2 linked regions of the Homo sapiens genome follow. The protein of the gene in region 2 interacts with the protein of the main gene of each other region in a biochemical or structural test. Each region holds a gene or a part of one and is shown on either strand. Other genes may lie near its edges.

Region 1 (3,500 bases), about 49 Mb from region 2:
CATTTAAGTATTCTTTTTTTTTCCCCTCAATTATTGCGCATTTACTGAAATATAGACTTCTTTTTTTCACTTAAATATGTGGTCTGAGATATCATTAGAGACTTTTACAGTGTTTCCAGAACTAAACACTATTTTCCTAGGAACTATCTGATGTTTTAAGAATGTACCTCTGTAGTATTACAAATGTCGCCACCATTCAGGGTACCTGAGAACTGGGCCTGAGAGCAGGGCCCAGTTAAGTGTTAGTGATTACGCACTTTTGGGGAAAAAAAAAGTAGGTAATTCCAAAATTTCTTTCAGGTTTTGTTTCCCTTGATTTTTTTTTTTTTTTAAATAGGCTTTGGTATTTTAAAAATGCACAGTGTAGTATTTAAAAAATACACAGTGTAGCTGCAGCTGCAGCTGCACAAAACAGCACTCTGTCCTCATTCCCGGTTTCATTCACATTTAAGTGTTTACCCCTTCGAATTTTTGTTGGAAAACTACGAGGGTAGGTATTTCAGTGCATCGTCTATAAAACATATTAAACTTAATGTACGACTTAAGGGTGTCTTGGAAATGCCATGTATGATTACTGTTTGCTCCGAATTGTTTTATCAGCACTTCATCAGGATTTATGTAAATATATAGCAAGATGTTTTAAGACGCATTTCTTTACCCTTTTGAGACTTTTTCAATTTAATTCTCCCCCCTCCACCCATTTTTGTAGGGAATATGGATGAATAACATTTGGTTACATAATTGTAATCAAATATATGCATTTGTATAATATAATGGCAGTTCAGAATTTTTAAATTGATACAATTCAATCTCAGAGTTATAAAACTTCTAAACTGCTGAATTCTCCTTTGGTAATTAATAGTTTGATTATTCCTAGGTGTTGTGTATTTTCACAAAATTTTTTTTATTCTGAAGAAAACACTTACAGAGTATATTTCATGCTTTTCAGTGGGCAGTGGGAATGAGAAGGACAGATGATCATGAAGCATTCCTTAATATTTTTGAGCAGGATAACTTCTTTTTTAACCTTTGTCAAAATAACTGCCCTGCCATACTATTTAGGTAATGAGGTTATACAATGAGTGGTTTTGTTGTAATAGCTATCAAAGTGTTAAGCGGAACAATATATAAATGAATAAAACTGATTTTAGTGGTCTATAAAAATTGAGAAATACGTGTTTTCTGTTACATAATGGAAATAGGCCTTTTTGTAAATCTTATTAGTAGTCTTCTGTTGGTAGTGGGTAAGGGCTACTTTTTCAATCCAGTCTGCTTTTTTATAGAATAGTGATTCACAATTTTTTTCTCTGAAGGATCACATGGTAAATATTTCTGGCTTTGTGAGCCCTGTGATTGCATCTGCTGCCATTGTAGCCAAATACAGTATCTGACCAAGTGGGCATAGGTGTGTTCAAATAAAGCTTTATTTATACAAATAGGTTGGTAGCTTTCCCCCACTCTAGAAAATAATACCAGAGGTCTAAATGTGGTGCTATGCCATTGATGTTTGGGTTGATTCGGAATTTTCCACAACAGCGTTTTATAATTATTTTTGTGCTTAGACTCTTGTGACAATTTGTTGATCTTCCACAGTTCCCTCAGAATAATACCCAGCTGTCCATTCCCAAATTTTGTGTTTCATTTCAGAGTTTGTCAGCATAAGAACCTCTTTTAGGTTTATCCATGTTTTCAGGTTTCTTCACCATTCTTTGCTTCTGGAGGATCCCACTCCTATCCTGTGACATTGAATGAATGCCTGTCTGTGGCTCCCTGCTTCTGACTAAAGCGACATAGAATCTAATGTCAGTCATTTGTCTTTACTAAATGAAAACTACTAGACAAAGAAACATACCAAAACTTACTCATATGTTTCTTTGTCTAGTAGTTTTTATTTTAAGCCTACTGGTATGACTACCTTTGTCTACTTTAGAGGGAATTTTTGACATAAGCAAGGGGTTGGGCAAATTTTTTTCTTTTTAGGAAACATTAACTTAGTCTTTCAAAAAAGACTCTCCCCCGCCCCAGTAAAAAATATTGGAAAGAGCCTGTGCTTTAGCAGAGGGCCTACAGTCAAGGTATGTTTGGCCTGGGGTAGAGGTACTTCTGACCTTTGCTCTGAAAAGAATTAGCTGTAGACTTACCTGGGTGTAGCTACTGAGTAGCATAGAGCAGAATGGAAAATGCAACAGCTTTGTGAAAAAATTACACAGTACACTTTCTCAGCTCTAGTCAGGAGTGGGTTTTGTGTGTGCTGGACTTTTGACCCCTTAGCCCTCGGGGAAGCCCAGGTAGGACCTGGGACAATCAGAATTCCTGGCTAGTTGCCACCAGCTACAAGCAGTCTCTTCTCTTTATCTGACCCTGCTGCACATATATTATCATTATCTGTGTTTACCATGATGTGGAAAAGACTAGGCAGAAAACTCCAGGGTTGTCATTGCCTACTTTATGACCTTGGTTGAGTTGCTCATTTTATTCAGACTGTAGTTGTCGCAACTCATAAAGTTGCCTTGAGGAGTAAATGAAAATACCTTTGTAAATGTATGGTAGCAGGCCCAGTGTTAGTTTCATTTCACTTACTTCTCTATTCTTAGGACCTTCAGGGGTGGGAAACACATCTCCTGTTGTCAGTTTGTTCTGATGACAGGCCCTGTCACCCACTCTGCCTTGGCCCAGTTTTGTCTTAATGGGCTGCTTCCCACTTCTGCCATTTCCACTTCCTCTGCTTGAATTCTCCTTTTCCTTTGCCCTGTGATTTCCATATTCAAAATTTAATGGTTCCTACATTTGAGTTAGTTTTTATGACTTTCTTTGGAGTGTGGGGAGAGCCAGCAAGCCATAGTTTCTCAGGCAGAAAAAGGCACAAGAGGCTTGGGGGGTTATATTATGGACTACAAATAATGTGAGTTGCAAAAAGATCTTTAAATACAGATTCAAAAAATTGGCAAAATTAAAAATGTTCTTCCTAGCATGCTTAAAATTGTTTTTTTAAATTGTTGAAATATTTCCCCTATATCCTTATATTTACCTAGGTGAATTACTATACATTTTATTATGGTTATAATCATAACAAAGACATATGTCCTTATATTATGGTTGGAAAAGTTGAATAGATGTGTTTATGAAAAATTGTTATACTTCTAAAATGTAATGAATTCCTAATCTTGTATTGCCTTTATATCTAACTGCTGGACCATATAGTAAAGTGATATGATACCGGCACAGTGGCTCATACTTGTAGTCTCAGCACTTTGGGAGGCCAAGGTGGGAAGATTGCTTGAGACCTGGAGTTCAAGACCAGCCTGATCAATATAGTGAGACCCTGTCACTACAAAAAATTTAAAAAAAATTAGTTGGGCTTGGTGGCACGCACCTGTAATCCCAGCTACTTGGGAGGCTAAGGCAGGAGGATTGCTTGGGCCTGGAGGATGGCTTGAGTCTAGGATTTCGAGGCTGCAGTGAGCTGTGATGATGCCACCGCACTCCCACCTGGTGACAGA
Region 2 (5,269 bases):
ACAGAAAACTGTGATGGTAAGGACTCAAGTTCCTACATCTATATCATCTGGAAGGACTCCTCCCAGTCCCATGATCCTGTAACAAGGCAAACACTAAGAAGACACCTCACTTCTAAGATACAGATTATCTTGTGGCCACTCTGCCTAAACGTCCCTCCACCCTTGGCCACCATGTGTTCTCATTGCTGTAATAAACCAAAGGACTTACTCCAACACCTGAAGCTTGCAGTCGGGGTGCAAGAGTCCCTCACAGAGTAGTTTGATCCCCTTGTCTCCGAGAGTGTTGCCTCGCAGGTAAAGGTGCGTGAGATTCTGATTAGTGCTGAGTACCGAGGACAAAGCTGAACAACAGACTGACGTAAGGCCAGAATTCACCAACCTGTAGAAGGACAGGGAGAAGAGTCCTCAGTACCCAGCTGTTCCCCAACATTGTGCAGCTGCTTTGACTCAGTGCCTCGTCCTCTCTCAGCAGCTGCAGCCTTCAGCTCAGAGAGCAGGAGCCAGCATCTCAGATATGATCTGGGGAGAGCAAGACCTGCTGTCTCTGGCTGTCACAGGAGACACAAATGATGTCTCAGCAGATGCTTTGCTGTATGAGTCCGACAGAAAGAGCCAAGGCAAACTGAGCCAGTTACCCCATACTCCTCCTCCTCCTCACACAGCTTTCCTCCGGCCAGGAGTGCTCCTCAGCACCACTTCTTCCAGAAACACATCCCAGTGGTTATCCTCAACTAATAATCCCCGTAACACTGCAGACACCCACACTGCAGGGGCCTTTTTTTTTTTTTTTAAGAGAGACAGGAAAAAAAAATCCTCCTCATGGGAAGTCGGTGCTGATTTAAACATCAAAGACAACAGGTGAACGTCCATTGTGACCTTCTAAGCTGTAGCTAGGGCTGTGACAGGAACACGGCGGGGCCCTTAGCAATTGCCACCTCCCGCCTTCCTGCGCCCCCAAATGCCCCTTTCACATCTTTCTCGCTGCAGCCCTCAACCACGTTGGAGAGGTGGGAGGATCGCTTGAGTCCAGGAAGTCGAGGCTGCAGTGAGCCATGATTGCGCTGCCACACTCTAGCCTGGGTGACAGAGTGAGACCCTGCCTAAATAAATAAATAAATAAGGCCAGGTGCAGTGGCTTATGCCTGTAATCCCAGCACTTTGGGAGGTCCAGCACTTTGGGAGGGTGGATCACGAGGTCAGGAGTTCAAAACCAGCCTGGCCAACATGGTGAAAGCCCATCTCTACTAAAAATATAAAAATTAGTTAGGGTGGTGGTGGGCACCTGTAATCCCAGCTACTTGGGAGGCTGAGGCAGGAGAATTGCTTGAACCTGGGAGGCAGAGGTTGCAGTGAGCCGAGATTGCCACTGCACTTCAACCTGGGCAACAAAGTGAGACTCTGTCTCAAAAATAAATAAATAAATAGAAAAAGCCAGGCTCTTGCTCAGTCACCCAGGCCAAGTGCACAGCTCACTGCAGTCTTAAACTCCTGGGCTCAGACAATCCACCCACCTTGGCCTCCCAAAGTGCTGGGATTACAGGCATGAGCCACTGTGCCTGACCCAGAGACCAGTCTTATTTGATTATTATATCAACCTGGCAAGGAAGGAGTGCAGCTAAAACTATTACATACATTTTACATATTAGAAATCTAAGGCTTATAAAAATTACATGTTTCTCTCAAGGCCACAGAGCAGGTGTGTGGTGGGGAGGGATCCAGACCTGGACTTTCCACCTTTTAGTCTCATCTTCTCCCCACTGCCCTTTCTGTCCACCTCTCTCTTCCTTCTGCACAGCAAAAGGCCTTTTAGAGCATAAAACCCCAAAAATGCATCAATCTCGATGGAATTAAGAGTTTTGATGTACTATTCTTGAGTCAAATTAAGCCCATTCTATCACCCAGGAAGAGCATAAGAGCTCTAAAATCACTGGTGGCGTAATTCCTAGGAGCACAGATGCTTCTATTCCATGAAGCCAGGAATAGCGCAGGTGATTGCCTCCTTCCTGCCAGAGTCCTTGGCAATGGCATGTTTTTTAAGCTCTTTGGTGTCTACGAGGCAGGAAAAATAGAAATACAGAAAAAGTGTATTCAGACAGTAAAGCATGAACAGATGACCAGCAGGAAAAAGTGATTATCCATCCACTGGTTTCTATCTTCCCAATTAAGGAAGAGTCAAACTGAAAAGACACAGTAAGTAAGACTAATAGGCAAATGAAGCCCAAGAGAGACAGACAAAAACAAAGCAAGTTTTGAGTGGCTTCTACTAAGCTCTCATCCCCGGTAAGAATTCTATCAGAGGGTTGTTGTTAATTAACATGCAGAAGGGATTAGTAGCATTCCTGGCAAAGGCCAGGGACATTCTAGTAGAATGGGGATGGTCTTCAAAGAGGAAAAGAGAAAATATTTTTTAAATTATGTAATTAAAGTTATGCAGGCTTTACCACTATTTCCAAAAAGGAGTAGAATGGATTATTCAACAGATGTTTGGGGAGCACTACACAGTAGTAGTAGAAATTGCAACAGACGGTGCAGTTTTGTTAAGAAAACGTCATATCCAAATTGTGAAAATGCTGGTAACTATTAAGCAACGGTTACACTGAACACATAATAAAATGTTTAAAGAATCAAACAACCATGTCCCACCAACCAATCCTTGGATTAGAGGAATGTGATTGACATCTCGATTTCAACCAATCCACCTAACTGAGCTCTACATTTACCAAGCACGGATATCTTGCCATGTACTGTATTAAGTTAATTGGTTGGGGATTTTTATTTATTAACTACCTGCCTATGTCACAAAACTGTCTCATAATGAAAACTGAATCCCAGTGCTTTGGGAGGCCAAGGTGGGAGGACCACTTGAGGCCAGGAGTTTGAGACCAGCCTGGGCAACATAGCAAGACCCTGTCTCTACATAAAAAATTTTAAACATTTTAAACATTACCCAGGCATGGTAGTACACACCTGTAGTCCTAGCTAGTCAGAAGGCTGAGGCAGGAAGATTGCTTGAGCCCAGGAGAGTTCAAGGCTACAGTGAGCTATGATCCTACCACTGCACTCCAGTCTGAGCCACAGAGCAAAACCCTGTCTTAAAAAAAGAAAAGAAAAGAAAGGAAAATAAGGAAAGGAAAGGGGAAAGGGAAAGGGGGGGGGGAGGGGAAGGGAAGGGAGAAAGAGAAAGAAAGAAAGAGAGAGAGAGAGAAAGAAAGAAAGAAAGAGAAAAAGAAAAAGAGAGAAAGAAAGGAGGAGGAGGAAGAAGGAAGGAAGGAAGGAAGGAATCTGAAGAAGAAGATCAAACATTTTTTGAGTATTTATTGTGTGCTTGACATGGATGACGACTTTAAACAGGGTTATCTCATTGAATGATCACAACCTCAAGATGGGAATGTTAGTTTTATCCCTGCTTTTAAATGGACAAAATGAGGATCACAGTAATTAAAAAATAAGTAGGAGCTTCTTAGATGGATAGTAGAAAGTGGGAAAGTGGGGGTAACCTTCCAGGCAAAAGGAAAAGAGTAGCAAGAATAAGGAAGATTAAAAGAACCACCAAGATGTTTCAAAACTAATTCATAGCTGGGCACAGTGATGTCCACCTATAGTCCCAGCTACTTGGGCGGCTGAGACGGGAGGATTGCTTGAGCCCAGGAGTGCAGATGAGATCAGGCACTCTGGGTGGTATGGCTGTAGATGAACCCAGGAATTCAAATTCAGCCTGAGCATCATAGCAAGTCCCCATCTCTAAAACAGCAAAACAAAACTCATCCAATATGACTCAAAATGGAGTGCAAGGTATGGCAGGAGAGAGGGCAGTATCAGGGACAGCCTTGTGTGCCAAGCTAAGATGTCACTCTGACTGCAGAGAAGAACTTTTGAAGATTTTTGAACAAAGGGTCAATATTTTCAAATTTGCATCTTAAAAAGTTCCCTCTGGTGTAGTGATGAGTGGTAGAGGGAACCGAAAGCAGAGCATTTAGGACCGTCCCCCGTTTACTCACTCAGCAGCCTCCTGGAAAGCCCCACTATTCAATGAGGCAGGAGGAAGAGGGCAGGAGCAGGTCAGAGAACGGGGGTGGAAGGTGGGGTATGATAATTAAACCAATGTTGCAAATGCTCAGCATGTGTGACCCTTGAGCAGTATTGAGACAGGCAGTACACAATATGCAGCCAGAGATGAGGACCCAAAGTTCGAGAGAAAAAAATGTAGCTATACCTAACACATAGGCTATACCTAACACATAGGCTATACCTAACACGTAGGCTATACCTAACCCATAGGCTATACCTAACACACAGGCTATGCCTAACCCATAGGCTATACCTAACACACAGCCACATGTATGGCTGTACCTAACACATAAAATGCATAAAAGTCTCGACTGATTAATGCCACTTATAGATACCTATCTCAAAGCAAATACACATGCATAAAACTATATATACAAATGTGCTTTTTGCAGAGTTGTTTGTAATAGTGGAAAAGAACAGTTATCCCAAAATGCATGATTTGATTAAATAAATTATGGTAAAGCACACTATGGGATATTATGCCCCAATCGATAGATCTACACAAATCAGCATGGAAATTTATCCATGATAAATGAAAAAAGGATATCACAGAAAAATATTTATATTATGGTTCTAGTTTCAATAGATAGGGTGTTATGGATTGAATTGTTTCCTCTAAGACTTTATATGTGGAAGTCCTAGGCCCCAGTACTTCAGATTGTGACCTTATTTGGTGATACGGTTACTGAAAATGTAATTAGTTAAGATCAGGTCGTTACAAATCTAACATGACTTGTGTTCTTTCACAGGGAAACTTGGGACATGGAGAAAGACACACACAGACACAGGGAAGACACCACGTAGAGATAAAGGCAATGGTGTGGCAGAGGCATCTACAGGTCAAGGAATGGCAAAATGTGTCAGCAAGATGACATTCCACCAGAAGCCAAAGAGAAGCATGAACAGATTCCCCACAGCCCTCAGAAGGACCCAGCCTGCTAGCATCTTAATCTCACACTTCTGGCCTCCAGAACTGAGGGACAATAAATTTCTGTTGTTTAAGCTGCTCTGTTTGTGATACTTTATTACAGTAGCTCTAACAGACTAGGCATTTAAAATACTACATAACAATGTATTACAAATGCAACATGAAAATCACATAGGTCTTCATTCACATTACTGATATAAATACCACCCAGATCAGCATATACAGGAAATCCATTTGTCCATAATTAGCAACCAATATATGTTCACAAAGCTC

Evidence for each region.
Region 1: the proteins of NLRP3 (region 2) and NEK7 are reported together in a solved structure, tested with the Homo sapiens proteins (one study listed by IntAct).

What each region holds. Positions count from the first base shown.
Region 1 is NC_000001.11:198,159,998-198,163,497, forward strand, and holds part of NEK7 (serine/threonine-protein kinase Nek7), read left to right. Parts: intron 1-3,500. UniProt on the Homo sapiens protein: Protein kinase which plays an important role in mitotic cell cycle progression. Required for microtubule nucleation activity of the centrosome, robust mitotic spindle formation and cytokinesis.
Region 2 is NC_000001.11:247,439,082-247,444,350, reverse strand, and holds part of NLRP3 (NACHT, LRR and PYD domains-containing protein 3), read right to left. Parts: intron 5,071-5,269; exon of another isoform or gene 4,818-5,070; intron 380-4,817; coding exon 209-379; intron 1-208. UniProt on the Homo sapiens protein: Sensor component of the NLRP3 inflammasome, which mediates inflammasome activation in response to defects in membrane integrity, leading to secretion of inflammatory cytokines IL1B and IL18 and pyroptosis.